Linked DNA regions of Homo sapiens. The protein of the gene in region 4 purifies or fractionates together with the protein of the main gene of each other region. This does not show direct contact. Each region holds a gene or a part of one and is shown on either strand. Other genes may lie near its edges. The genes, in order: ZNF148, GNL3L, LSM14B, KAT6A, MRPL19, TTC4 and RPS27L.

Region 1 (4,208 bases), on a different chromosome or scaffold from region 4:
AGTAAAAAGATCTGTCATCAATAAGACCATTCAGAATAAGATTATACCATGTATTATTTAAAAGTGTGCCTCTTGGCCGGGTGTGATGACTCATGCCTGAAATCACAGCACTTTGGGAGGCCAAGGTGAGTGGATCACTTGAGGCCAGGAGTTCGACACCAGCCTGGCCAACACGGCGAAACCCCATCTCTACTAAAAAATACAAAAAATTGCCAGAAGTGGTGGTGCACGCCTGTAGTCCCAGCCACTCTGAGACTGAGGCAGGAGAATCGCTTGAACCTGGGAGGCAGAGGTTGCAGTGAGCCAAGATGGCGCCACTGCACTCCAGCCTGGGTGACAGAGAGAGGCTCCATCTCAAAAAACAAACAAACAAACAAAAGTGTGCCTCTTGGGCTCGGCGCAGTGGCTCACACCTGTAATCCCAGCACTTTGAGAGGCTAAGGCAGGCAGATCACCTGAGGCCAGGAGTTCGAGACCAGCCTGGCCAACATGGTGAAACCGTGTCTCTACTTAAAATACAAAAATTAGCTGGGTGTGCTGGTGTGTGCCTCTAGTCCCAGCTACTTGGTAGGCTGAGGCACGAGAATCAGTTGAACTCAGGAGGCGGAGGTTGCAGTGAGCCAAGATCACACCACCGGACTCCAGCCTGAGTGACAGAGTGAGATCCTGCCTCAAAAAAAAAAAAAAAAAAAAAAAAAGCCATAGAAGCCTAGAAAGAACATTCTAGGGTCATTTTAATACATTTCCAGATTTCCCACACTAAAACTCTCCAGAAGACAAAGAATACTGCAACCTCAAAAAAAAAAAAAAAAAAAAAAAGTGTGCCTCTTGAAGGGATTATGAACTCCTAGCAAACAGGGACCATGTTTCGCTCACCTTTATAGACCCCTTCCCCCAACAGCACACACTAGATACTCAATAAATAGGTAAATTCTATAGAATTGTACTCAGAAGTTAATTCAGAAAAGGTGTTCTAAAAACATTCTGAACACTGCTACTGAAAATGACCACCGAAATATAAAAGTTCTTATCTGGAGATATAATTTTGATATTTGTTTTTAAAAATCAACTTTCTGAAATCTTATACCATTACTGAATTATTTCACAACTGTCTTTCTCTCTCAAAAGAATGTAAATACTACTTTGGGATGCCAAGGTGGGAGGATCACCTGAGGTCAGGAGTTCAAGACCAGCCTGGCCAGAATGGTGAAACCCCACCTCTACTAAAAATACAAAAATTAGCTGAGCATGGTGGCACGCTCCTGTAATCCCAGCTACTTGGGAGGCTGAGGCAGGAGAATTGTTTGAACCCAGGAGGCGGAGTTTGAACCCAGCAGTGAGCTGAGATCGCACCACTGCTCCCCAGCCTGGGCAACAGAGCAAGACCCCGTCTCAAAAAAAAAAAAATTGTAAATACTACAAATTCCTTGAGAGAAGAAGCTTATCTGTTATTTTTACTATCCTAAAAAAGAATTAAATCAGACAGTCCTAAAACAGTCATTTATGCCTGAGGTAAAAAAAAAAAATCTAAATTAAACCAGCACCCTGCTACAGACCAGATTTTACTCCAGATTAAACTAGCTTCAAATTTAGAAGAGACCCCTTGGTCCCACCTCTTCCAAGTTGTTACAGAACCACTGCAATTCCATTCTAATCCAGTCTGTCTTCTTCCCTTAAATCTAAAGGTCCTCTCCAGATATCCCTTTTGTCCTTCACGCTGTCAAACACACACACACACAGTTTTGCCTACAATACCCCCAAAGTACTCAGCAATTTCATACAATCCCACTATTATCACTAACAGTGAACACTACTTTCTATCAGTCATTCAACAGGTATTTATTAAGCACTTAAGAATCAACCTGCTGTTAGTTTCCCTAGAGACTACAGGAAGTCTCTGCTCTAGAACAGGTTACAATGTACCATTTGCAAAACAAAGAGAATAATTGTCACAAATACAAAATTTAGCAATACATAAACTACATGTGAATACTGTTACTACTGAAAGTAAGGAAGACTCTCAAGAGTTGCCATTACTTAGACTCCCAAAAAGAAGTGGAGTAATTATCTTTCTAATCTCCCAACATCCACCATAGTGATTTGCACCTCATACACAAATTTCAAAAACATTAATATTTTATGACTCTAACCTAACAGAGGAGATTGGGCCCAGTATAGTTTTTTCCTACCACATTCCCAACATATTAGTGACTTAAACATGCTAATTTCCTTAAAAATGACAAAAATTTTAGTCTCATCACCATAAGGTAAACCTCCTTCACATTAACTATATCCAAATCCCCCTCAAAATTCTTTACCTTTTCTTCAGCCTCCTCAAAATGTATCACCACCTCCATCAAACCCTGTTCCTCATCCTCATCCTCCTCTTACCACATTTCCCATCTCTCCCTACTACATCCCCCCAAAAAACACATGTATATGCCAATCCATTACCTCCTAAAAATAAAAACATAAGAATTGTGGCCGGGCACGGTGGCTCACGCCTGTAATCCTAGCACTTTGGGAGGCTGAGGCAAGCAGACCACTTGAGCCCAAGAGTGCAAGACCAGCCTGGGCAACATGACGAAACCCCGTCTCTATAAAAAATACAAAAAAAGTTAGCTGGGAGTGGTGGCTCATGCCTGTATTCCCGGCTACTTGTGGGGCTGAGGTGAGAGGATTGCTTGAGCCCAGGAGGTGGAGGCTGCAGTGAGCTGGGAACATGCGCACTGCACTTCAGCCTGGGTGACAAAGTGAGACCCTGTTTCAAAAAAAAAAAAAAAAGGGGGGGGGGGGGGCAGGGCGAAGTGGCTCACGCCTGTAATCCCAGCATTTTGGGAAGCCGAAGCGGACAGATCATGAGGTCAGGAGATCGAGACCATCTACAGTGAAACCCTGTCTCTACTAAAAACACAAAAAAATTAGCCAGGTGTGGTAGCGGGCACCTGTAATCTCAGCTACTCAGGAGGCTGAGGCAGGAGAATTGCTTGAACCCAGGAGGCAGAGGTTGCAGTGAGCCGAGATCGTGCCACTGCACTTCAGCCTGAGCGACAAAGCTAGACTCCGTCCCAAAAAAAAAAAAAAAAAAGAATTGCCACAGAACCCTAGAAAAAACATTCAAGGGTCATTTTAATGCATTTCCAGATTTCCCACACTAAAACTCTCCAGAAGACTGTCAAAGAATACTGCAATCAGGCCGGGCGCGGAGACTCATGACTGTAATCCCAGCATTTTGGGAGACGGAGGCGGGTAGATCACGAGGTCAGGAGATCGAGATCATCCTGGCTAACACGGTGAAACCCCGTCTCTACTAAAAATACAGAAAATTAGCCGGGCGTGGTGGTGGGAGCCTGTAGTCCCAGCTACTCGGGAGGCTGAGGCAGGAGAATGGCGTGAACCTGGGAGGCAGAGCTTGCAGTGAGCCGAGATCACACCACTGCACTCTAGCCTGGGTGACAGAGCGAGACTCCGTCTCAAAAAAAAAAAAAAAAAAATACTGCAATCTGGTAACTAATTCCAAGATGAACAACTATCATTGTCAAGCAACTCCTCTTCATCTCTAACAAGCAAATCTTACACTGCAAAGATGGTTCCTACAACATGGTCTTTCTGATAGGTCCATCCAAACTTCTCTTTATCATCTCATCCAGCATTTTTAGTCTAATTGTCAATGTTCTTTCTACTTCAGGAAAGCCATACCTAGGCTAAATCCCTAAAATACAATGGGGAAATCAAGAGATACAGCCTAAGATTGTTGGATTCTAAAATCAAGGTTTAAGCATATTATTTAAAAATATAAACACACTGAATAAAATAACTAAAATAAATATCAAAGGTCAGAAAGGAGGAGAAAGGGGATAATGTCAATGACACATTCATAAACATCTTCTGACTCCGATAATGTCATTTTGATAAATCAAGAAATAATATTATATGCCCATTACTTGGAGACATGGAAAAAAGCATGGTAAGAAATACAAAATTAATGCTTAAAAGTAGCAGCCTCAGTAAAGTGGAACTGCAATAGGCAGGTGAGACAGGGGCTGCTGTTTTTCATTGTAAGTTCCCTCAGAACAATTTTATAATAAAAGAGTAGAGGCCGAGCACAGTGGCTCACGCCTGTAATCCCAGCACTTTGGAGGCCAAGGCGGGTGGATCACTTGAGGTCAGGAGTTCGAGACCAGCCTCACCAACACGGAGAAACTCCA
Region 2 (3,994 bases), on a different chromosome or scaffold from region 4:
GTTCAAGCGGTTCTCCTGCCTCAGCCTCCCGAGTAGCTGGGATTATGGGCGCCCGCCACCACGCCCAGCTAATTTTTGTATTTTTAGTAGAGATGGGGTTTCACTGTTTTGGCCAGGCTGGTCTCGAACTCCTGACCTCATGATCCTCCTGCCTCAGCCTCCCAAAGTGCTGGGATTACAAGAGTGAGCCACTGCGCCTGGCCTTTTTCTTTGTTCTTATATTTTTGTCTTTTTTTTTTTTTTTTTTTTGAAACAGAGTCTCACTCTTTCACTGAGGCTGGAGTGCAGTGGCGTGATCTTGGCTCACTGCAACCTCCACCTCCTGGGTTCAAGCGATTCTCCTGCCTTAGCCTCCCGAGTAACAGGGACTACAGGTGCCCACCACCATGCTGGGCTAATTTTTGTATTTTTAGTAGAGGCGGGGGTTTCTCCACACTGGCCAGGCTGGTCTTGAACTTCTGACCTCAAAAGATCCACCCACCTCGGCCTCCCAAAGTGCTGGGATTATAGGCATGAACCACCGTGTCCGGCCATATATTTTCGTCTTTTGAAGACTGTTATATACATGAAATTATATGGTATGTAGCATTTTGAGAGCGACTTCTTTTGCTATGAGTAATACATTTGAGATTCATCCATATTTCTCAGTATATTAATAGTTCTTATTTCTGAGTCACTCCATTGTGTGGATTTACTACTGTTTGTTCCCCAGTTGAAGGATGTTTAGGATCTTTGCAGTTTTGGACAATTACAAGTAAAGCTGCTATAAACATTTGTATGCAACATTTTGTGTTTTCATTTATCTATAGTAAATACCTAGAGTTGGATTGCTGGGATATATGGTAAGCATATGTTTGACATTTTAAGAAACTTCTAAACTGTTTTTCAAAGTGGCTCTACCATTTCACATTCCCATCAGTATGAAAGTTTCATTTCCACATCCTCTCTAGTACTTGGGGGTGTCAGTTTAGTTTTTTAATTTTTAAATTTTTTAATTTTTTTAATACATTTAAATAGAGATGGGGTCTCACTGTGTTGACCAGGATGGTCTTGAACTGCTGGCCTCAAGTAATCCTCCCATCTCGGTCTCCCAAAGTGCTAGGATTACAGGTGTGAGCCACCATGCCCAGCCAGGTTTTTTGACATTAAGTATGTGGTGGTATCTCATCGTTTTTATTTGCATCCTCTAATGATTTGAGCATATTTTATATGCTTATTTGCTATCTACATATCTTCTTTGGCAAGGTGTTCACATCTCTTGCATATTTTGGATTGTTTTATTATTTTTGAATTTTGAGGATTATATGCTGGATACAGGGGTGTTTTTTTTTTTTTTTTTTTTTGAAACAGAGTCCTCACCCAGGTTGGAGTGTAGTGGTGCAATCTCGGCTCACTGCAACCTCTGCCTCCTGGGTTCAAGTAATTCTCATGCCTCAGCCTCCTGAGTAGCTGGAATTACAGGCGCAGGCCACCATGCTTGGCTAACTTTTATATTTTTACCAGAGACAAGGTTTCACCATGTTGGCAAGGCTGGTCTTGAACTCTGGACCTCAAGTGATACACCCGTCTTAGCCTCCCAAAGTTCTGGGATTACAGGCATGAGCCATTGTGCCTGGCCAGTATCTTGTCTTCTCATTCTGTAAACGGTGTCTTTTTTTCATTATGGGAAAGCTTTATTGACACATTTGTTTTTATTTTTAAAAATTATGGTAAAATACACAGAACATAAACGTTACCATCTGATATGGTTTGGCTGTGTCCACACCTAAATCTCGAATTGTAGTTCCCATAATCCCCACACATATGTACCACATTTTCTTTATCCAGTCTTTCGTTGATAGACATTTAGGTCGATTCCATGTCTTTGGTATTGTGAATAGTGCTGCAGTGAACATATGTGTGCATGTGTCTTTATGGCAGAATGATTTATATTATGCATAACCAAAACTGTACTTATTAAACAATAACCTCCCAACCCCTTCTGCCCACAACCTCTGGCGACTGCCATGCTACTTTCTGTCTCTGAATTTGAATACCCTGATAGTCATATAATATTTATCTTTTTGTGACTGGCTTATTTCACTTTGCATAATGTATTCAAGCTTAATCTGTGTTGTAGCCTGCGTCAGAATTTCTTTTCTTTTTAATGCTGAGTATTATTCTATTGTGTGTATATACCACATTTTATTTATCCATTCATCCACTGATGGACATGTGCATTGTTCCCACCTTTTGGCTATTGTGAAAAATGCTGTTATGAATATGGGTATGGAGATCTCTCCCCTTATTTTGAGACAGGATCTCACTGTCACCCAGGCTGGGGTGCAGTGGTGTGCTCATAGGTCACTGTAGCTTCGACCTCCTGGGCTCAAGCGAACCTCCCACCTCCGCCTCTTGAGTAGCTGGGACCACAGGCATGTGCCACCATGGCTGTTAAATTTATTAATTTGTTTTTCTATGGATCATGCTTTTTGTGTTACATCAGAGGAGTCTTTGCTTAACATGAGATGACAAAGGTTTTCTCCCATGTTTCCTCCTAAAAGTTTTATAGTTTTAGGTTTTACATTTAGGTCTATGATCCATTTTGAGTCAATTTTTGTATATGGTACAAGGTATGAATCTATGCTTTTTAAAAAAATATGGTTACCCAATTTTTCTAGCAGTATGTGCTAAAACTTTGCTAAAGTCACTTAGTTCTAGTAGCTTTTTTTGCAGATTTAACCAGACTTTCTACATAGACAATCATATCTTCTGTGAATAAACATGGTTTTATTTCTTCATGTCTAATATATATGTCTGCATTTTTTTTTTTGTCTTATTGTAGTCGCTGGGACTTCCAGTACTACACTGAGTAAGAGTGGTGGCCAGGTGCGGTGGCTCACGCCTGTAATCCCAGCGCTTTGGGAGGCTGAGGTGGGCTGATCACCTGAGGTCGGGAGTTTGAGACCAGTCTGACCAACATGGAGAAACCCCGTCTCTACTAAAAATACAAAATTAGCTGGGTGTGGCAGCGCATGCCTGTAGTCCCAGCTACTTGGGAGGCTGAGGCAGGAGAATCTCTTGAACCCAGGAGGCAGAGGTTGCAGTGAGCCGAGATCACACCATTGCACTCTAGCCTGGGCAACAAGAGCGAAACTCCATCTCAAAAAAAAAAAAAAAGAATGGTGAGCACAGGCATCCCTGTCTTGTTTCTGACTTTGGGGGAGAGTATTCTTTCTGCCTTTAACCATTAAGTATGTTAGATTTTTGTATTGCCCTTTACTAGTATGAGGTGCTAAGGGTTTGTTTTAGGAATGGATGTTAGATTTTCTTAAATGTTTTTATGCATCTATTGAAATGATTACATGGTTTTTCTTTTGTGGTTTGTTTTTAATGTAGTTTTAATAAATTATATTGATTGATTTTCTTATGATAAACCAATCCTGCATTCCTGTGATAAACCCCACTTTGTCATGATGTATTATTCTTTTTTTTTTTTTTTTGTGAGACGGAGTCTCACTCTGTCACCCAGGCTGGAGTGCAGTGGCATGATCTTGCCTCACTGCAACCTCTGCCTCCCGGGTTCAAGTGATTCTCCTGCCTCAGCCTCCTGAGTAGCTGGGACTACAGGTGCGTGCCACCACGCCCGGCTAGTTTTTGTATTTTTAGTAGAGATGGGGTTTCACCATATTGGCCAGGCTGGTCTCGAACTCCTGACCTTGTGATCCGCCCGCCTCAGGCTCCCAAAATGCTGGGATTACAGGCATGAGCCATTGCACCCAGCCTATTCTTTTAATAAATTGTTGGGAAGTTATATTAGTTTCTATTGCTGCTGTAAAAAATTAGCACAGACTTTGTGGCTTAAAACAACACAAATCTATCATCTTACACTTCTAGAGGTGAGAGGTCCCAAATGAGTTTCACTGGGCCAAAATTGGTGTTGTCAGGGTTACACTCTCTCCAGAGACTCTAGGGGAGAATCCATTTCCTTGCCTTTTTCAGCTTCTAGAGGCTG
Region 3 (4,208 bases), on a different chromosome or scaffold from region 4:
CAGCTCCAGCAGCACACCCACCCTGAGCTCCTCTTCAGCCGGAAACCTGCTGCTCCCACAGACTTCCGTGTTCAAAGAAACAGCAACTCCACCCATCAGCCGCCCAGGCCAAAAGACTTAGGAGTCATTCTGGACTCTTCTCTTGTCATGTTGGCCAATTCTGTTAGCGCCACCTTCAAGACACATTTAGACTCTACTCCTTCCCTCTGTCACCACCACTGCCTGGTTCCAAGCCACCTGTGCTGCAGCACTGGCCCCTAACTGGCCAGTCAGCAGCCACACTTGCCCACCGTCCAACCACTCTCACCAAGGACGCCGTAAAACATCAGACCGCACCACGCTTCAGCACAAAACCCTCTGATGGCTTCCCGCGGCACTTGGAACAAAAGCCAAAGTCACTGCCATGCCCTACAAAACCCTACAGGAACCCATCCCCCAGACTCGGCCTGTCTGGAAGCACTTCCCGCACTCATCTGCGCAGCCTGCTCTGCCTGTGAGAACTGATCATCCACTTCCCATCGAGTTACAGCCCCATCCCATCGCCCTCACTGCCTGGCCTTCACGACATGCTGTTCTATTTTTCCCCTGGCAGAACATGAACCTGAAGAGGTGGCGCTCTCCAGCCTGCCTTCTGAGGCCCCCTCAACGCCCCGCGGCATGTCTGGCGCTCAATCTGCAGGACAAATGGGCCCAAGTTTCCAAGCCAGGCCCACACTGTAGATGCCACCCACTCCCTAGGGTGCTTCGCGGGACTTCTGACCAGCTGTTAGGTGTGAAAAATAAAACACACCACATGGTCCCTGGCCTCAAACAATGAAGTGAAGGAAAGCCAGTGTGAGCACGTTCTAGCCATACCTCAGGCTGCTAAGCAAGGACCTCAGGCTGCCAGGCCAGCGGGACCAGCAAGCAGAGCACCGTGAGGTATGCTGAATGTGGACACGGGTCTGCCGGGGGGGGCGGTGCAGCCCAGCCTTTGTGGGGACAGGGCAGCAAAGCCAAGAGGAAACAGGCTCGACCTCAGCCAACTCCTCGGGTCGGGATCCCCAAGAGGCTTCCCACACGCAACCTGCTGGGACTCCGGCACCCATCATGCAGAAACGCAAGCAGGACCCTAGAACAGCTACCCTGAGCCTCAGAGTCCAGCTCTGCCCTCAGGTTGAGAGCCCTCAGCCCTGTCCTTTCTAGATTGGAGGACTGTCCTCCCCTCATTCATTCAGCCTCTCACCTGGTCTTGAGTTCAGAAGAGATGTTGTCGAAGAACGACTTGGATTTGTCATAGTAGCAGTTGGGCCCCAGAAGGTCTTCCTCAGCGGGCGCTTCGGCACTCTGGGTCACCACAGCCAGGTCCTTCTCTTCCCCCTTCTCAGCCTTGTCATCTACAAAAAGAAGCAGAACACGTGGAGATGGAGGAGGGGCAGAGCGCACAGCCTTTTAGCAGGGTGGTCCCTCCGGGCTCACTCGGAAGCCACCCTCAAGCTAAGACATCAACTATGCCTTGTGCAAAGCAGAAATCTCTTCTTCTACCTTCTAAGTACAGGTCTCGTTCTGCCGTCTGGGCTGTGCAGTCTGCACCTTATCCCACCCATTTTCACACCTCCCAGCACCTCACTTCATTAATTCCTCACTGCCGGTCACCATCCGCCTGGCATCCCCGGTTCCTCTAGGCATCTCTTCCTTTTCCTTGAGACAGAGTCTTGCTCTATCGCCCGGCTGGAGTGCAGTGGCGCAATCTTGGCTCACTCCCACTGCAACCTCCACCTCCTGGGTTCAAACGATTCTCCTGTCTCAGTCTCCCGAGTAGCTGGGATTACAGGCGCCCACCACCACGCCTGGCTAATTTTTGGATTTTTAGTACAGATGGGGTTTCATTGTGTTGGCCAGGCTGGTGTTGAACTCCTGACCTCAGGTGATCCACCCACCTCAGCCTCCCAAAGTGCTGAGATTACAGGCGTGAACCACCACACCCGGCCAGGCATCTCCTCCTAACACTCTCTAGGGGTACTCCTGTGCAGAGAATAATTTTCATATAATGAGCCAAACCTTTAAAATTCAGTTTCTTCTTAAATTCTTTGTCAAGCTCCTCTCGGTTGAACTGGGCATTTGCACTCTCGAAATCAAAGTCACCCTCAAATTTGATTGTGTTTTCCTTAACGTTAGTTGGACGGTTTTGCCCTCTGGAGCGATTCCTTGTTCGCCTGTTTCCTGTGAGGACAAAGGACAGCCCTGGCTGAAGTAGGTCACCAACCCAGTGATCTCAAACACCTCACAAGGAATTTCCAGGCACACCCCCAAGGCCACAGAAGGAACAGAGCACACAAGCAGCGACTTCACACCAGCACCCCTGAAACCGTCAACCAGAGAAGCAGGCAGGAGGGCAAGCAGAGCTCAGCCTGATCACTCGTGGTCCCCAGAAATCAAGTGGCAACAGGTGTTACCTGATCGCCTCCTCTGAGGTCTTCTGTTCTCGTCATTCACCTGCCCTTGAGCTTGCACAGCTGCCGGCTGGACTACATCTACGGCGCAAAAGGGAAGAGTAAGGCAAAGCTCCTATAGCAGCCGGAAGCCAGAACCCAGCTGTGGAAGCAGGCCCCACCACCATGGGGCACGCGGCCAGGGCGGCACCGCAGGAGGCTGCTGCACAGGCCTGCCCTGCAAAAGCACATGGGGCTTAGGATGGGGGAGTAGTATTTTTTTAATTAAAAAAAAAAAAATAGCCCAGGAAGTAGTGTGCCACTTTTAGAACATCAAGCAAACTCCAGGAAATGATGTGTTCAAGTACCGCTGGCCGTCTTGCTGCTCGGCTGGGCCTGACGACCGTTGAGCTGCGTCCCTGTGGTGCCCTTGCCAGGTAACAGCTTTTTAGCATTCAGGTTGTCAGCAGAACCAGTCTGCACAGCCTGCTCCACCATGGGGCTCTTGCCGACTGGGATGGATGGAAAACCAGCTCCTGAATTGAGGAGGGGAGGAGGGTTTAAAAACAGAGAGAAAAGAAGCAAGCCTTATATCTCCAGGCATTTCTCTTCTGCTGGCATGTCAGGAAGGAAAGGAGGGCAACTGCCTAGATGTTCTATCAAATCCAGGCAAAGCACCCCCAGACTGGGCCATTCCCTCTGAGGCTAGCCCAGGCAGCAAAAGAAGGCCAAGAGTCACTGGGCAGCACCAAGGCCAGTTCATCTTTGGACTCCCCACTCCCAAAGCCCTGAGCTTCCCAAGTTAGGGAACCTCAAGGACAGGAAAAACACCGTGCCTACAAACAGGCACCTCCCCAGAAGTGTGGAAACAGCTTTCTTAAAACCACACAAGCTCCAATCCCAAAGGAGCTCAGCAGCCCCAAGATCCTGATGAATTCAGGATCTGAGAATTTGTTTCATTCTGGTCCACACTGGAGAAGAACCAGCCCAGCCTGGGATTTTCTAGAAAATGCAGTGAACAAATTCTGAAGTTAAATTCTACAACACTGTCATTTCCACTTAAGGCACAATAAAACTAAAAATGATGAAGCAGGAGCTGACTTCCGAGACGTAGCAGCCTACACTTCTCTCAAGGGCAAAGGCTCATCATGAAGACACAAAGGGCTCCTAGGTAGCCTTTGGCAAGGGGCTATGCCTATGAAACTGCAGTCCGAGGCCCACGCACAGGGGATGAACCCTCAGAAACCAGGCCCTCTGAATCAGGAGGAAAATGGGAAGCACCACCCACCTCTCTCCATCTCCTCCCTTTCCAAGGTTCCAGGACCTGTAGGGACTCTAAACAGGACAATGTGGGACTGGGTGTAAGTGAACAGAGATCTGAAACAGAAAAGGCACCCTAACCACAGGGTAATTATTATTAGACGAACAGCCCAATACACATGAAGACTGGGCATCTCATCTTACTGCTTTTACGGAATAGAAATGAAAAAAAAAATTGACTGTAGAAAAATTCCTTGTAACCAGATCAAGAGAAGCTCTCAAAGGGCAGGTTGGAACGACTCTGCATAGAGGTCTGGAAAGTGTCCTCTGGCGGGAATGCACCCGGGCCACTTTCTCACTGATTGTCTCACTCAGCATGTCCGGGAGACAAACACAGCACTGCCTGCCTGCTGATCATACTGTGACTGCAGGGGCATGGATAAGGGGCTTGTCTGCTTTTTACACAACCAACTAGTTCAAACAAAGTCTTGCCCTATGAGCAGGTTTAGGTAACTGATCCTAAGAGCAATAGAAGTA
Region 4 (4,208 bases):
TTCTTTAGGTTATTTGTTATCAAAGCGTGAAGGCCAAGCAGGGTCTCCAGAGAAACCGTTATCTGATCTGGGTCGTCTTTCCTACATGGCATATTGGAAAAGTGTAATATTGGAGTGCCTTTATCACCAAAATGACAAGCAGATCAGCATTAAGAAGTTAAGCAAGTTGACTGGAATCTGCCCTCAAGACATCACTTCCACACTCCACCACCTACGAATGCTGGACTTCCGTAGTGACCAGTGAGTATCACATCTTTTTGTATACCTTTGAAAGATAATTAGGTTGAAGTTTTTTGGATCAGCCAGTCAGATTATTGATGAAAGGGCATTAACTAATATAAATGATATACTTGGTGATAATGAGATATCATTTTCCTTTCTAGGATATTTTATTTGATTGACTATATATATGGTCTATATATAGTCTATATATATGCTTTTTAAACTGAATTGTTTTTCTGATACCCCTAATTTTTGGACCTAAGCTACTGAATCTTTCATCTTCTAGTATTGGGAGCTCTTTCACAATACAAGAAGTAACCACTCTAGAAACAGTCATTAAATAAAATGCCCATGTTAAATTTTCATATAAATGGCACAAAGTAAATATAGATTGAAAGGAAGAACAGACAGTTCACCCTTCACTAAAGTGGTCAGAAAAAGGTCACAAAGAAAGGAGGCATTTGAGCCAAATAAATGGAGAATAGGAAAGAGAGTGCAGAAGAGCAGCAGAACTTCTGGAGCGGGACGTGTGAGACAGCAGGCAGTGAAAACAGCCCGCGGCCACGGTAGAGAGCGAAGCATTTGTCCTGCTTCACACTCCTGGCCGTCTCATGTGGTGGCACATTTCTGCATTCCATCGTCCCAGGCAGGCTATCTTTGCAGCACCTATCATCTTACATGCTTCACCAGGGGTCTCATCTCCACATTCATTTTTATGTACACCTTGTACATTGTTGATTGCTATAAACTTTTCTCTGGTTCCAGATTTGTGATTATCCGCCGGGAAAAACTTATCCAGGATCACATGGCAAAGCTTCAGCTGAATTTGCGACCTGTAGATGTAGATCCAGAATGTTTGCGCTGGACTCCAGTCATAGTGTCCAACTCTGTGGTCTCAGAGGAGGAAGAAGAGGAGGCTGAGGAAGGAGAAAACGAAGAGCCACAGTGCCAGGAAAGAGAATTAGAGATCAGTGTAAGGGCATGAATAGTCTCTATTTTTGATGACAGAAGATATATTTTTGATTTCATGAGTATTTATAATAATGTATTATGATCATCTTTCACAGAAAAGTAAATTCACATTAGAATGTCAAGAGTTTTATTTCAGTGGTAGAGATTTCAAGAAGACTGGACCTGGTTTACTTAAGTATTTTTAAGCCTTGGACAATTAGGAGGAGACCATCAAATTTCTTATAATGTGTTACTTGTGAGAAAAATATTTGTTACCAGGGTGCCAAGAAGCAGCTCAGTTTTAAGCTGGATAGTAGTTGAGAAATCTGAATTGAATCCAAATCTGACAGTTTTTAAAAATGAAATGGAGGTTGGGTGTGGTGTTTCATGCCTGTAATCTCAGCGCTTTAGGAGGCCCAGGCGGGAGGATTGCTTGAGATTAGGAGTTCAGGACAACCAGGGAAATATAGTGAGACCCCATCTCTACAAAAAAAACCCAACAACAAAATGAAATGGAGATACATTTTCCTTAAATAGAATATTAAGTAACTATTGTAAACTTGTGTATGTTTTCTGATGGGGCACCAAAACATCCTGTGGACACACAGATCTCTTTAGCCGTTAAAGGGTTGCTGGTGAACTGTAGTGCATGTGTCATTGTCAGTATTTTTCTTCATGTGATGCATACTTTTATAGCTCTTTTTTTTAAGCAGTGCTTCATCCTTTCAACACCGGTATCCTCCTTTAATAAACATAAAAAATCCCATGCCTCTCTTTAGTGCAGTTTAATTTTTCAAAATGAAATTATTCAGAATAAAAGTAAATTTAAAAACTACATAAACTTTCTTTCATATTTCTCAAATGCCTCCTTCCTCTTGCCCATGTCTCAAGATCCTGTCTCCTCCACCCTGTTTACAAATTTTTATTTCTGAGAAATTTTATTAAACAATCTCATTTAACATTTAAAAGAACAATAGTATTCACTTTGCTTATTGAGGGTGGTACTGCAGAAAGATTCAGAACATAGGCTCTGGAGTCAGACTGCCAGGCTTTCTATCCCAGCATCTTCTCTTGCTCTTGCGTGACCTGGGGCAGATTACTTAAATTTTTTTCTACCCCACATGCCTCATTTGTAAAGTGGAGTTGTAGTGGTAATACTTCATATGATTGTTGGGGAGATTAAATAAATAATGCATATACAGAATTTAAAGCAGTGCTGAAACAGGAAATATCCATGTTAAATAACTGATCATTTTCTTTTTAAAGCTCAGTTTCCTTTTCTTCTCTCAATACTTAAAAGGTCAGAATAGGTAAATGTAAGCAAACAAGACTGAAAAATTAACCAGCATTGTTTTATTTTCTAAAATCAGGTGGGAAAGTCTGTGTCTCATGAGAACAAAGAACAAGATTCTTATTCAGTAGAAAGTGAAAAGAAACCAGAAGTTATGGCTCCAGTCAGTTCTACACGTTTGAGCAAACAAGTCCTTCCTCATGATAGTCTTCCTGCAAATAGCCAGCCATCTCGGAGGGGCCGCTGGGGGAGGAAGAACAGAAAAACCCAGGAACGTTTTGGTGATAAAGATTCTAAACTGCTCTTGGAAGAGACGTCTTCAGCTCCTCAGGAACAATATGGAGAATGTGGGGAGAAATCAGAAGCCACCCAGGAACAATACACTGAAAGTGAAGAACAGCTGGTGGCTTCTGAGGAGCAGCCAAGCCAGGACGGGAAACCTGACCTTCCCAAGAGAAGACTCAGTGAGGGGGTTGAGCCCTGGCGAGGACAGCTCAAGAAAAGCCCTGAGGCTCTGAAGTGCAGATTAACAGAAGGAAGTGAGAGGCTGCCCCGTCGCTACAGTGAGGGTGACAGGGCTGTCCTCAGGGGCTTCAGTGAGAGCAGCGAGGAGGAGGAGGAGCCGGAAAGCCCTCGGTCAAGCTCGCCACCAATTCTCACAAAGCCCACGCTGAAGCGAAAGGTAACGCATTTCTTTCCAGGTCTTCTCTTCCTCCAATTCCAGTTTATCTTACACCTTCTCGTTTTAGCTTACAGTTCTGAAAGAGTATAAGTTAGAAATTCCTAGTGCATTGCTTTATAAACCTTAAGCCTCTGTATATTGTAGCTCAAGATCTTCCCAGTGAACATTTGAGATGTGTGTGTGTGTTTGACTTCTTTGATTCATGGGAATTCACTTAGAAATCATAAGCTTATTTAAGGGCTTCACCTCCTGGGATGCAAACAAACTTTTTTTTAGCTTACTGGTTTGATGTTCAAATCATGACTTTTAGGGGCTTAAAGCCCTAAAATATCTTTAAAAGATATTTTTAAAGTATGTACAGATTAGAAGTGTTTATATTAGAAAAGGAGGCCAAAATATTACATAATTAATTGGAAAGTGAACATAGTGCTGCCCTATATTTTGGGGTACTCAGAGTACAGTAGCTCATCTTGGGTGCTATTGTTTTCTCTCTACTCTCCCCACTTCTCACACATCCCTCCAGTGGTTTAACGTGGTCTCTCTTGCTTTAAAAATATTTTCTAAACTATATTCCATCATAATGATAGCCAATTAGTTATTAAATAATGTACAATGATGATAATGAATTCTGTTAAGCCGTTTACCAGAAACATCCCAGGCTATGGAGTGGATTTTAAGCATTGCCAGGAGGCAGCCAGACTGAAGCGAGGCTGCTCCCTGGAAGAGCCACTCAGCCAGCTTCCAGCCAAAGCAGCACAATCGTTCCTTTCCTTACAGGGTCTTAAAAAGCAAGACAGGATCTTTTGTTTTGTTTTGTTTTGTTTTAAGAATAATATCTTCAGAGCAGTTTTACATTTACAGAATTAATGCAAAGAAAGTACAGAGAGTTCTCGCATACCCCAGCCAGTTTCCTCTATTATTAATCCCTTGCGTTGGTGTGGTACATCTATCACAGTTACTGAACCAGTGTAGATACATCAGTAACTAGAGTTCATACTTTATTCAGATTTCCATAGTTTTCCCTAACGTCCTTTTTCTGTTCCAGGATCCCACCCAGCATAT
Region 5 (4,208 bases), on a different chromosome or scaffold from region 4:
CTTATATGACTTGGGAGGAATTTTAAAAAGGCAAAATTGTGTTTATATACTATGCCTAATAGAGGAACAAGGAGTAAAACTCTAGCAAGATTATTAATTAAAATGGCAGGAACAATTACGTTTATCAAGTTGTGTGCTTCATGAAGTTCCAACAACAAAGTATTCTTATTTTCAAAGAAATTGAAAATGTGAAAGCAGTTGCTGTCTTGCTTATTCTGTAATGACAGTGGGCTGTGCGTGCAGGAATTCAGCAGGACTTAATTGATTTGTGCCTTCAATCTGGTCAAATACTTGGAGAGGCCTTGTAATAGAAGTAAATGAGCATAGGAGTGAGTCATTTGATTTTCTTTAAGCATTAAGATAGTAATAGTTTCTACTCTACATGGTTCTAGCCAATCAACTGTGAGATACTGTATTTGAAGTACTGGACACAGAATACTCAAAAAGGATTAGCTCCCTCTTGCCATTCTCTGTAGTATGTCTGACTGTTGTAACCTGCCTCAACCTTCCCCATCACTGCTTCCTGCATTAGTGTTTCCTTCTTGTTCGGTGGCTTTGTATACCATCTGTATAATGATAACTTCCAAATTTATAACTCCAGGACTGACCCTTTTTAAGTTCCAGATTTGCAACTATCTGCAACTATCTGATCAACACTCTATTTGGATGTCTTACCAGCATAAGTTGAAAGCAGAACTCTTTATTTCCCCTTGCAAGGTGTTCCATTCACAGTCTTTTCTATTTCCATAAATGGTACCACTCTGCCTACCCACTTACTTTCACACATGCAGTCAATCAAGTTTTCTTGGCACAGTCTCCAAAAAATATATCACAATTTTGCCTGTTCTTCCCTCTACATTGCTATCACCCTCATCCATGTCACCATCATCTGCTTGCATTTGTGCAGTCTCTCTGGTTTACATTTCTGGTGGCTTATTCTGTTCGTGCTGTTGTAACAAAATGCTACAGGCTGGGTAATTTAGAAAGAACAGAAATTTATTTCTCACAGTTCGGGAGGCTGGGAAATCTAAGTTCAAGGTGCTGGCAGGTTTTGTATTTGGTGAGGCCTCCTTCCCTGCATCCAAGATGGTGCCTTGTTGCTGTGTGCTCTGGAAGGGCCAAGCACTGTGCCCTCACATGGTGAAAGGTGGAAGGGCAAAAGGCAAAACTAGTTCTCTCCATCCCTTTAATCCACTAATCCTTAATCAAAGGAGCTTCTAACCAAAGTTGGAACTTAATATTTTACTTCTTTTGTACCATTAGTCTTATTACTCTTAACATGGAAGATTGATTTTTCTTCAAGTAATTGGGAGATAAAAAACGTGACATAGGGAAGAATTCAGACTTTCTCTGAAGTTACTACTATGAGAATTGAAGAGATATGTGACTCAACATATTTCTAGAAGCCATTTTTTTCTTTTTTAGACTATCATTCCAATTCAGACTTTCTAACTTTATATTTAAATGGATTTTAGCTTATTTCTATTTCTTTCAGTAATCTTTATCTTAAAAATTTCAAATTAACGGCACATTTTCTACATGCAAAACTTTGTGCTAATTCCTTTATGAAATGCTTTTACTGCAGTATGAAACATGTATAGGAACGTGGACTTAGATTGTAAGAATATGTTTTCTGTTCTATTTAGGTGTCGAGATTTGCTTTGAACTTTATAATCCTCGGGTCCAGGAGATTCAGGTGGTCAAATTAGAGAAACGGCTGGATGATAGCTTGCTATACTTACGAGATGCCCTTCCTGAATATAGCACTTTTGATGTGAATATGAAGCCAGTAGTACAAGAGCCTAACCAAAAAGTTCCTGTTAATGAGGTATGGGTTATACATTTGAAACTAGAAGTTCAAGTATAAAATAAGAAAGAAAGAATCATCTTAATGAAAACTTCAGAAGAATTTTTGCTCATGCCTATCAGCCTAATTATTGCTTTTTTTTTTTTTTTTTTTTTAATCTTCCTTAGCTGAAAGTAAAAATGAAGCCTAAGCCCTGGTCTAAACGCTGGGAACGTCCAAATTTTAATATTAAAGGAATCAGATTTGATCTTTGTTTAACTGAACAGCAAATGAAAGAAGCTCAGAAGTGGAATCAGCCATGGCTTGAATTTGATATGATGAGGGAATATGATACTTCAAAAATTGAAGCTGCAATATGGAAGGAAATTGAAGCGTCGAAAAGGTCTTGATTCTGAGAATGAATTTGGTTAGTTGCAGAAGATACATTGGCTCTAAGAGGATATATTTTGAGACCAATTTAATTTCATTTATAAGAACATAGTAATTAAGTGAACTAAGCATTCATTGTTTTATTAATACTTTTTTTCTAAAATAAAACTTGTACACCAGTTTATTACTCTAAAAAGAGAATTACACATGCCAAATGGACCAATGTCCATTTGCTTATTGGAGGCAAAGCTACAATAGAAGTCAGAGCATCACCAGAATGGTCTTTAATGAGCATGGAACCTGAGCAAAGGGAATAGGTGGGATGAATTTTTTTTTTAATTGTGAAACAATTCATAAGCACAATATGATTTACAGAATAATAAACATTCATGTACCCACTATCAGGTTAAGAAATAGAACATTTATTAATATGTAGGAATGTTAAGAAATAAAACATTTAATAAGATCTCAGAAGACTCCAGTAAATCTGCAATTGTATCTCTCTCCTTTTTAAATGTAAATATCATCTTGACTTGTTAATTATTCCCTTGCATTTCTTTTAGTTTACTGCCAACACATATATTCTTCAACAATATATTTAATTTTGAAAAACCTGAAAAAAAAAACCTGTTAGCAAGTATAAAGGGGCAGTATTACTATTATTGCATGAAGGCTTCAAGGGAAACGTTACAGTCTTTGGGTCATAGTCTGGCTTCAGCTTCCTCTGAGAGTTTACAGAGGCCAATTTTGAGCAAATTCATGGCTAAGGTTATGAGTGAGTTCTGCTAAACAGAAGGCTCACCACAAGGTATCTGGCAGGATTATACTGGGTAGCTGGATGTTGCAGAAATGTGGTTAGAGGAAGTAAACTGTTTTTTGATGCTCACAGCATGATGAATCAAACTCTGTATCTTAGGATTAGGTTAAAACAATACCTTTGGTATGATATGAGTGTTGTTGCTGATCCATGCAGCATGGATTGGAAAGCTGGGGTATAAGCACACATGCTAAAGAAAAACATGTAATTTGGTCCATACTCACCTGGATATACTGTTCCTCAGGTTAAAAAATACAGTACTATCCTAAATCTTGAAGGCAACTCTCAGCCTATCCATTGAGTTACCTTCAGATCTGCCCTCTGGTTCCTAGCTGTCTTGGGACTAACTTCTTTCCTGCGCTCAGCTGTTTTCTGGATTCCATGTTTTCCATTTTATTGAGTACTAACTTGTTTTGCTGCAGCACATCCTTTGGTAGCTTCTAGAGGAAGTTTGTGTGGAGGTAAAATTTTTGAGACCTTGCATGTCTCATGTTTGATTGATACTTTATACGTTTAGGTAGGAGGTAATTTTCCTTCAGGACTTTAAAAATATTGTTGCTCCATTTTCTTTGTTTCTATTGTTGTATTGAGAAATCCAATGCCATTTTGATTTCCCCATCATAAATTTCATGATGATGTGTCTTGGTGTGGGTCTATATTTATCCATTGTATTGGGTTTTAGGTGAACCCTTCCAGATAGTAACTCATTTCTGTCAGTTCTGGGAAACACTTAGCATTGGTTGATGATTTATTCTCTGCTGCTTTGTTCTCCCAACTATTATTTGGATGTTGGATATCCAGCACTGGGTATCTATTTTCTTACCTCCCTCCCTTGACCCCAGTCTCTGTTTTTTAGCTCTTTAGCTCAATCTTCCAACTCTTTGCTATTGTATTTTAAAATCTTAAGACCCCTTCTTGATTTGTAGAAGTTCCTTTTCTTACAACCAAAAAGCCTTTATCTATGGATTTGTTCACAGATAAGGGGTATTCAATATAGTGTATTTTTTTTTCATTTAAAATTGTTTGCGCATCTATTTCCTCCAAATTTCTTTCTGTATTTATTTTTTGTTGTCTATATTTCAGACTTTTCCAGGATATCTGATAATCTTTGGCTGTCTTCTTATGGTTGAAAGAGGGACTAAAAAGCTTGGAAAGCCTTTGGGTTGTGGGAAGGGGCTGTCTTTAGGATTATCTGAATGGGCTTTTTTGGGAGTC
Region 6 (3,500 bases), on a different chromosome or scaffold from region 4:
CTGTTGAGCCCCTCTAGTGAATTTTTCATTTCAGTTATTGTACTTTTCAACTACAGAACTTCTGTTAAGTTCTTTTTAGTAACTTCTCTTTGTTGATATTCTCTATTTGGAAAGACATCATTCTCATACTTTTTTTAGTTCTTTAGACACTATTTCCTTTCATTCTGAGAAGATATTTAAATTAGCTGGTTTAAAGTCTTTGTCTAGTAAGTCCCACATCTAGGCTTCCTCTAGCTAATGACCAGACAGTAAGTCTTCCAATCTTTGTCAAGAGGCTTTGTGTACATGTTGAAGCACATTTTTAGCATTCACCCAAGCAGTTTACAATTCTACCTTAGCCTTCACTTCCTTCTTGCAGAGACTCTGAGAGCTTAGGGTCTTCTCAGGTCTTTCCTGAGCACATGTATAGCCCTGGGCACATGTGTGACCATCTAGATCTTCAGGAATACTGGAGCTTTTCGGAGCCCCCACAGAATTTCATTCCCCAGTTTTTCCTTTTAAGCTTTATGATGCACCTATTGTTTGCTCCAGTGTTATCCACTGCTTCAGCTTCTACAATCTTTAACAATTGCCTCTAATTGTTTTTTGACAAATTCTCTCCCACCTTTTCATTCCCCCTATTTTCTGGCCCTATGTAAAAAAGCTTTTTATACTGGGTAAGCTCCAAGTCAGGTCATATAAAAATAGCCCTGTGAGCGGGGTCTTCCAGGGATCTACCAGATGGTCAAATCATCACAGTTCTCTGGGAAAAGGCTTTGAAAGAGCTCCAACCCTGTTCTGCCTCCTCTGGTGGCTGCAGGCTGCTCATTTTCACCATGACTGTGGGCTACTGGCTTTCAAGGCTACTGTGGAACTGGAGAGGAGGGAGATGAGAATAGAGCAAGTTAAAATGTCACAAAGCTTGCTGTTCTTACTGAGGTTCCAACATTTTTCTTGAATAAACATGCTCCAGATTGCTGCAAACCTCTGGTTCATTTCCAGAGTCCTAGAAAAGTGAATTCTGATCATTTTTGCCAGTTTCCTCATTGATTTTATGGAGGAGAAAAATTGTAAAGGTCTTTAGTCCACCACTGTGATTGACACTACCCCTCTCTATTTTTTAAATACTGGTTTTATTAATTACTGAGATAGTTGATATTTCCACCTATTTGTGGATTTGTCTCTTCCTTCTTTGAGTTGTCAAGTTTTGCATCATGCATTTTGAAGCTGTTAGTAGGTGCCTACACATTTAGAATTGTTAAATATTCTTATAAGCTGGTCCTTTTATCATTTAAAAAAATGCTTCAGTGGCTGGGCACAGTGGCTCATGCCTGTAATTCTAGCACTTTGGAAGGCTAAGGCAGGAGGATTAAAGCCCAGGAGTTTGAGACCAGCCTGGGCAACATAGTGAAACCCCAACTCTACAAATTTACAAATTAAAAAAAAAAATTAGCCTGGCATGGTGGTGCACGCCTGTAGTTCCAGCTACTCAGGAGATTGAGGCAGGAGGATCAGTTGATCCCAGGAGGTCAAGGCTGCAGGAAGCCATGATCATGCCACTGCACTCCAGCCTGGGCAACAGAGCAAGACTCTGTCTCATGAAAAAAAAAAAAGAAAAAAAGCTTCACTTCATCTCTGGTAACACTTGCTGCCTTGAAGTCTACTCTGTCTGATATTAACATAGCCACAAGTCTGTTGGCTATATGCCAAGCACATAGGAACCCAGAATCAGCTTGTACTCAGACACAGGGGAATACTTCAGCTATTCAGCAAGTAATGTCACCTAGACCTAATATCAGGCTTCTGGGCCTTGAAATCTCCCTTTAATTGTGACTGTCCCCAGTAGCCCTCTAGACATTCATTCCTGTATATACCACTTTCAGAAATTCTGGCCATACCCAATTACCTAGGCTCAGAATTCTGTTATTGAGCCATGTGGGTCCATAGAGATCTACCTTTTCTACCATTTCATATGACCAGAATGACCTCTGGTCATTGCTGATGATATATGACATTTCTGGCACATAACAGCTAAAATGATGATTAAAAACAGTAATAATAACAGAATACCATCACTACCCAAAATAATATCCAACATTTAAATAGCACTACTGTGTGTGTGCTCCAGGTGTTATTTAAAAACATTCCTTACGTTAAACCATCTAAACTATATAATAGCCCTATAAGGTAGGAAATATTTTAATTCTCCTTCTACTAGTGAGGTAGCTAAAGCACAAAGAGATCAGCAAGTTGTCCAAGTCACATAACTGTCATGAAGGGAGTCTTCAAATTCAGGCAGTGGCTCCAGAGTCTAAGCTCTTAGCCACTGTGTAATACTGTCTTACATGCCTGTTAATAGAAAGCCAGAACTAGTCTTAAGGTCTCTTAATTCCTGGTTTAGGTCTCTCTTCATGGCTTATACTACGGAATGGGAGTATATAATATACACTGGGAGTCTTTAGCTGGCCCTGAACACGTGACATTGTTATGTGACTGTATATAGTAATGGTATCTAATTTTGCCCTGGACAAGACGTGTCTCCATTCAGATTGATGGGGATACATTCTGAAAAATGCACAATCATTGTTGTACAAGCATCATGGAATGTACTTACACAAACTGAGATGGTATAGCCTGCTACATACCTAGATTATATGGTACAGCCTATTGCACCCAAGCTACAAACCTGTAAAGCACATAACTACACTGAATCCTGTAGGCAACTGTAACACAATGGTAAGTATCTGTGTAGCTAAACACATCTAAACACAGAAAAAGCACAGTTAAAATATGGCATCATAATCTTATGGGACCACTGTAATATATACGGAGTTCCATCATTGAATGAAACACTGTTATGTGGCACATGACTGTACTACCACTATACACACCATCTATCCTTGCTTACCTCTATATCACACTATAACTGTTTACTTGTCTGTGTGCTCCACAGAGTTCCAGGAGTAGGGACTAGTTTTGGGTTTTGTTTTTAAAAAGTTTACAATGACTTGAGAGACACAATCTTGGGAATGCTAATTACTGCTAATTAGCAAATGCTAATTGGTTGCTGACAGTCACCAACCTTCAGCTTGTCTGCTTTAGCCCTCATTTCCAGAAGCTTCTTCTCTTTGGCATCTATTTGCAGTCCCTCATCACACCAGTTCACGGCCTCGGCAAAGTGTTTCAGTTCCAGATGGCATAAGGCACCTGCAGAACCCAGAACCCTTAGGATTCAAGAAAAACATGCATGGAAAGAACCTGCTTTGGGCAAGATCTCCCATCCCCCACCAACTACCAGCCAGTACCCTGAAGGCAAAATGGAGGATAATGCCCCTTATACTGCAGTCCCCAGACAAGGGAGAATACTTTTTGTGTCCTAAATCAGAAAAATCCCTAAGGTCCATTTAGTTCAAAACTCCTGTAAGTCTCCCTGGTATTAAGGGCTCTTAAAGTAGGAAAAGCTATAACTTAGTGGCAAACCAGATAGATCAAGGCTAGAAATCTGGCTGTGTCATTTACCA
Region 7 (4,827 bases), on a different chromosome or scaffold from region 4:
AAATGCTATAATGAAGTCTACTTAAGACCATGAGCCTGAATTCAACAGTGAAGACTGTTTCAAGCAAGCTGTCAGAAGATATACTCTTAATTTTTAGGAACTATTCTGAATACTTTTCTCAAGTAAATAATTTTGATTAGAGGTATTTTCAGACCTATTAGGAAAACTCTAGAACAGATAGACCCATTAAACCATCTGTCAGCATATGGGCACTAAATTCCAAAATCATGACATGACATACTTTGTTTCAAAAATCTCCCAAGTATACTTAGCAATATTACTTAGCAATATTACTCTTAAAAAAATCATGTGCTGACTCCATATTTAGATCTCACCAGGTCACACCAAATAGATCTCAGATTTGCTGCCAATCCACTTGAACTCTTCCAGTGAGAGCATGGAACTTACAGCTCCCCAAAATATCACAAGCAAATTTATAACATCATTATGGAATCACAAATTTACAAGTATTACTATGGAAACTATATATATAATTTTTTTTTCTTATTGCACTAAAGTGAAAGAGGAATTAAAATTAGGTTTTTATATTAATCATTGCAGTTGCTCATAAAAGTAAAATCTCTGGCATTTTAACTTATATATTAGCTATCTGTTGCTTAGCTGGCAATGATAAAAAAAAAACTATTATATGTACTAAATATATATGGAACAAAATTTTGTAAAAGAAATTTTAAAATTCTATATGGTTTTAAAAATCTGTATGTCCTGGCCGGCGAGGTGGCTCATGCCTGTAATCCCAGCACTTTGGGAGGCCGAGGCGGGCAGACCATGAGGTCAGGAGATCAAGACCATCCTGGCTAACACAGTGAAACCCCACCTCTACTAAAAATACAAAAAATTAGCCAGGCATGGTGGCACGCGCCTGTGGTCCCAGCTACTTGGGAGGCAGAGGCAAGAGAATCACTTGAACCGGGGAGGCAGAAGTTGCAGTGAGCTGAGATGGCGCCACTGCACTCCAGCCTGGGTGACAGAGCGAGACTCCTAATAAAAAAAAAAAATAATAAATAAATAAATAAATAAATCTGCATGTCCTATAACATGTAGTTATTCTTTTGCTTCTATTCTGACTTAATTTATTCCAAGTTAAGCAAACTAAGTGAATAAATGTGTTCTAAACTAAGAAAAATAAGTCAATGGAGTTCACTGCAAGGTCAAGAGTATAAATATATCCATTTGAACAGGCCATTCTTTACTGAAAGCACACAATGAAAGATAAGTTATTTTGGTAATCATTAAGATTTCTTTAAACTTTTCAGTGAAGATAGAGACATTTATAATCATCAATCTCATCACTGGGTTGGAGAATGCCAAATGATATACCTTCTGTGAGTCTGGCCTTTCCTCCTGTAGGCTGGCACAACACTGTTGAACAACCTACACAAAGAACCACTGTCTGAGCATGGCTGAAAACCGTGGTGATCTTGTAGCAACCTAAAAAAAAAAAAAGGCAATGTTAAAAATGAAAAGCAGAGGAAAACAGCACCTGTTCGACATTTCTGGTAATATGTAAAAAAATCAGTAACTTCAGTGCTATGAAACAGCAAGCCACATGTGTAACATAAACTTTTCTAGCAGCGACACAAAATTTTTTAAAAACAGGTAAAATCAATAATATATTTCATTAAACTTAATATTTCCAAAATATCATTTCAACATGTAATCAATGTATTTTTTTTCTGTGCTACATCGTCAAAATCCAGTGAGTATTTTACAATTAAAGAACATCTCTATTTTGAGTATCCACATTTTGATTATCCACAAGTGCTCAGTAGCCACATTCAGCTAATGGCCATTGTATTGGGCAGCACAGCTTTAGACTGAAGAATCAACAGACTTTTCTTTGTATCATGAAACAGAAAACTCATCGTCTGAAGAGCTTAAAGACTTGCTAAGTCAAATGGCATATCTCCTTTGAATGCCTGTTTTCACTTACCCCGAAATGTTTCTACAATGGTTTCAGTACATTTATTATGAAAATGTCCCTGACATTTCCAATTCTGTAATCCCACTTCTACTCAACAGAGGGTTCTAATGTATCTTAACTATACACACCACACTAGCAATCCCTACAGAAATTTTCTTTAGTAAAGGAATTAAGATTTCAAATTTTACCTGGACATTTTACATCCATAAAGTAAGAATTTGGACTTTGTACTAGGCGTTTCTTTTTATGTTTTTTCTTTTCCTCTTCCAAGGACGGATGTAGTAAATCTCTAGCCAACTGAACAAAGAAGCATATTATTACTATTAGTTTTAAACCACAACGCTGGCACATTTAACCATACGTGAAATATACATGCAAAAACAGGAATAACGGTCATCCTCGGCAGAAGCAACACGTCAGATAGTAAAGTTATTTTTCGAAACCTGTTAATAACTTTCATCAGTACTTTTCATAATACTTGTGTTCTCCAAGTCCCTAGAAAAGGGCTTTCGCACGATCAGGAAACATATGGTAAGGCAAACTTTGTCCTTCTTTACTCAACTGCGTAATGAACTGTCTTCGATGAAAACTGCGCGAAGTCGAGGTGCTAAGCAAAGAAAGTGACCCCGACTGTGGACTCGCTTAGAGTAGAAACTGCTGAAGTAGACCAGACAACGTCAGCGCCTGGGTGATTTTTGCTCCTGTGGCTCAACAGCTGATCTGACAGGAATTCTTGCTGAGCGACCGTCCTTGACGGAATTAATATATAAGGCAACAACGAGGACAGTTTTTAAAAAAGGAAAACAAGTAGGAAATCGCTTCCGAAAGAAGGCAGAGGGGGCGAGAAACACCAATCACTGGGAAAGCCAAAAGACCCAAAGATCACAACCTCAGGGGCATCCTCAAAGACCAAGACCGCTCATAAGCTACACAGAGAACTGTTCCCCTCCCAGCCACCGCCTCTGAATTGCAGCCCACGCCCCTGCAGGGCCAGCCGCGCCGCGGTGACCGGGCAAGTCACTACATGCCCGCCACGCGCGAAGACGCTGCGCAACCTGAGCCGCCTCGCCACTCTCGGACACTACAGGCCCGAGAGGCAGCCGGACTCATCCGTCCCATATGACTCTCGGTAAAGAAGCCCAAAACAAACCCGGAGCCCGATGTAAACAACTCACAGGCATGTTGATCCTCTTGCAAGCTCAGCCCTACCAGACCTCCCAGCCCACACAGCTAGCAAGCTGCAAGCGATCTGCGCTCGGCATCAACTTCCGGGATAGAAGCTGCTGGGAGGAGCGGCGGGGCGGGCTTGTCTGCTCTAGGCCCTCCTCTCGGTGGTAGGGGGACGCCGCAGCAGGGTACTCGGGTCCAGGGCGCAGGGAAGACCCGGGGATGGTGAGCGTTCCAGGGTGCCAAGTCCCGTGGGTCTAACGGGCTTGTTGGCGAGCGCCGCGGGCTCTGCAGTGCCTGAGGCCAGAATCTGGCTGGGGAGCGGCCTCGGGCTTAGGCCATGGCGAGGGAGCGCCCGCGGCCACCGGGGCCGGCGCCACCCCGGAACCCGGCGGGCCGCTCAGCCCCCGGCCCCCTGGCCCGGCCGCTCTCGGTTAGCTCTGGGGGTGGGCACACGGGGCAATGCCACTATTCTCTTCTTTTGTGTATTAAAAAATACAGTATTATTAACCATTAATACGTGCCAGAGAGATTATGAAAGAGGCTCGTATCCTTTTGGCTTCCCTTTTCAAGGCGCAGATTTCGAAGTTTTCTGCGGGGTATGGCTGTGCCTTAGGTTTGCTTTGTTCTGAAAAAAAGTTTTTAAAACAGCACGGATTCGCTGCTGTGCCTCATTCACTAAGAGGCCCCACCCCTTCCGAGGATTACTCGTCCTTTGCAGAGTGGACAACTAGGGGGCCTGAGAAAGGCGAATGTCACCGATGACCGAACATGAGTCTTTATCATTATTATTATTTGAGACAAGGTCTCGCTTTTTTGCCCAGGCTGGAATGCAATGGTGCCATCACAGCTCACTGCAGCCTCGACCTCCTGGGCTCAAGCGATTCTCCCGCCTCAGCCTCCCGAGTAGCTGGGACCACAGGAACACGCCATTATTCTTTTTTTTTTTTTTTTTTTCCTTGGAGACAGGGTCCTGCTATATTGCCCAGGCTTGTCTCCAATTCCTAGGCTCAAGAAGTCCTTCCACCTCAGCCTCCCAAGTAGTTGGGACTACCGGCGCGTGACAGCATGCTCTATTTTTGAGGAGGAAACTCTATGCTTGAAAAATGGGTGTCATGGGCGACCAAAAGGCAAGAAACCAGAAAGACACTTTACCAGAAAATTGGTCTAACTGGATTTTTTTTTTTTTTTTTTTTTTTTTTGGCAGAGTCTTGCTCTGTCACCCAGGCTGGAGTACAGTGGCGCGATCTTGGCTCACTGCAACCTCCGCCTCCTGGGTTCACGCGATTCTCCTGCCTCAATCCTCCCAAGTACCTGAGATTACAGGTGTCCATCACCATGTCCGGCTACTTTTTGTGTTTTTAGTAGAGACGGGGGATGGTGGGGGGGGGGTTCACTATGTTGGCCAAGCTGGTCTCGAACTCCTGACCTCAAGTGATCTGCCCGCCTTGGCCTCCCAAAGTGTTGGGATTACAGGCGTGAGCCACCGCGTCCCGCCCTGACTTGATGTTCTTAATCACCTTATTTGTCTTTGCAAAAAGGATACATGTATAATATACATTTTGGGAAATGCAGAAAAATAGAAGAAAATTTACCATCTGTAAATAAACATTTTTAACTTTTGACCTATATCCTTCCCAATATTTTTTACTCTCTTGGATATAGGTTTATTTTGGGTTTTGACTTAACCTAATTGGGATCATCTTGTGCATAAT

Evidence for each region.
Region 1: the proteins of KAT6A (region 4) and ZNF148 purify together in Homo sapiens (affinity purification with mass spectrometry, with the first as the bait; one large-scale study listed by BioGRID). This does not show direct contact.
Region 2: the proteins of KAT6A (region 4) and GNL3L purify together in Homo sapiens (affinity purification with mass spectrometry, with the first as the bait; one large-scale study listed by BioGRID). This does not show direct contact.
Region 3: the proteins of KAT6A (region 4) and LSM14B purify together in Homo sapiens (affinity purification with mass spectrometry, with the first as the bait; one large-scale study listed by BioGRID). This does not show direct contact.
Region 5: the proteins of KAT6A (region 4) and MRPL19 purify together in Homo sapiens (affinity purification with mass spectrometry, with the first as the bait; one large-scale study listed by BioGRID). This does not show direct contact.
Region 6: the proteins of KAT6A (region 4) and TTC4 purify together in Homo sapiens (affinity purification with mass spectrometry, with the first as the bait; one study listed by BioGRID). This does not show direct contact.
Region 7: the proteins of KAT6A (region 4) and RPS27L purify together in Homo sapiens (affinity purification with mass spectrometry, with the first as the bait; one large-scale study listed by BioGRID). This does not show direct contact.

What each region holds. Positions count from the first base shown.
Region 1 is NC_000003.12:125,368,589-125,372,796, forward strand, and holds part of ZNF148 (zinc finger protein 148), read right to left. Parts: intron 1-4,208. UniProt on the Homo sapiens protein: Involved in transcriptional regulation. Represses the transcription of a number of genes including gastrin, stromelysin and enolase. Binds to the G-rich box in the enhancer region of these genes.
Region 2 is NC_000023.11:54,564,503-54,568,496, forward strand, and holds the end of GNL3L (guanine nucleotide-binding protein-like 3-like protein), read left to right. Parts: 3' UTR 1-2,787; downstream 2,788-3,994.
Region 3 is NC_000020.11:62,128,524-62,132,731, reverse strand, and holds part of LSM14B (protein LSM14 homolog B), read right to left. Parts: intron 3,808-4,208; coding exon of another isoform or gene 3,700-3,807; intron 2,948-3,699; coding exon 2,780-2,947; intron 2,514-2,779; coding exon 2,436-2,513; intron 2,203-2,435; coding exon 2,041-2,202; intron 1,377-2,040; coding exon 1,226-1,376; intron 377-1,225; exon of another isoform or gene 1-376. UniProt on the Homo sapiens protein: mRNA-binding protein essential for female fertility, oocyte meiotic maturation and the assembly of MARDO (mitochondria-associated ribonucleoprotein domain), a membraneless compartment that stores maternal mRNAs in oocytes.
Region 4 is NC_000008.11:41,939,780-41,943,987, reverse strand, and holds part of KAT6A (histone acetyltransferase KAT6A), read left to right. Parts: intron 1-8; coding exon 9-240; intron 241-987; coding exon 988-1,195; coding exon of another isoform or gene 1,196-1,207; exon of another isoform or gene 1,208-1,939; intron 1,940-2,543; coding exon 2,544-3,146; intron 3,147-4,208. UniProt on the Homo sapiens protein: Histone acetyltransferase that acetylates lysine residues in histone H3 and histone H4 (in vitro). Component of the MOZ/MORF complex which has a histone H3 acetyltransferase activity. May act as a transcriptional coactivator for RUNX1 and RUNX2.
Region 5 is NC_000002.12:75,653,090-75,657,297, forward strand, and holds part of MRPL19 (large ribosomal subunit protein bL19m), read left to right. Parts: intron 1-1,646; coding exon 1,647-1,828; intron 1,829-1,974; coding exon 1,975-2,196; 3' UTR 2,197-4,208.
Region 6 is NC_000001.11:54,722,361-54,725,860, reverse strand, and holds part of TTC4 (tetratricopeptide repeat protein 4), read right to left. Parts: intron 3,187-3,500; coding exon 3,062-3,186; intron 1-3,061.
Region 7 is NC_000015.10:63,154,280-63,159,106, forward strand, and holds the start of RPS27L (ribosomal protein eS27-like), read right to left. Parts: upstream 3,199-4,827; 5' UTR 3,127-3,198; coding exon 3,121-3,126; intron 2,243-3,120; coding exon 2,134-2,242; intron 1,453-2,133; coding exon 1,342-1,452; intron 1-1,341.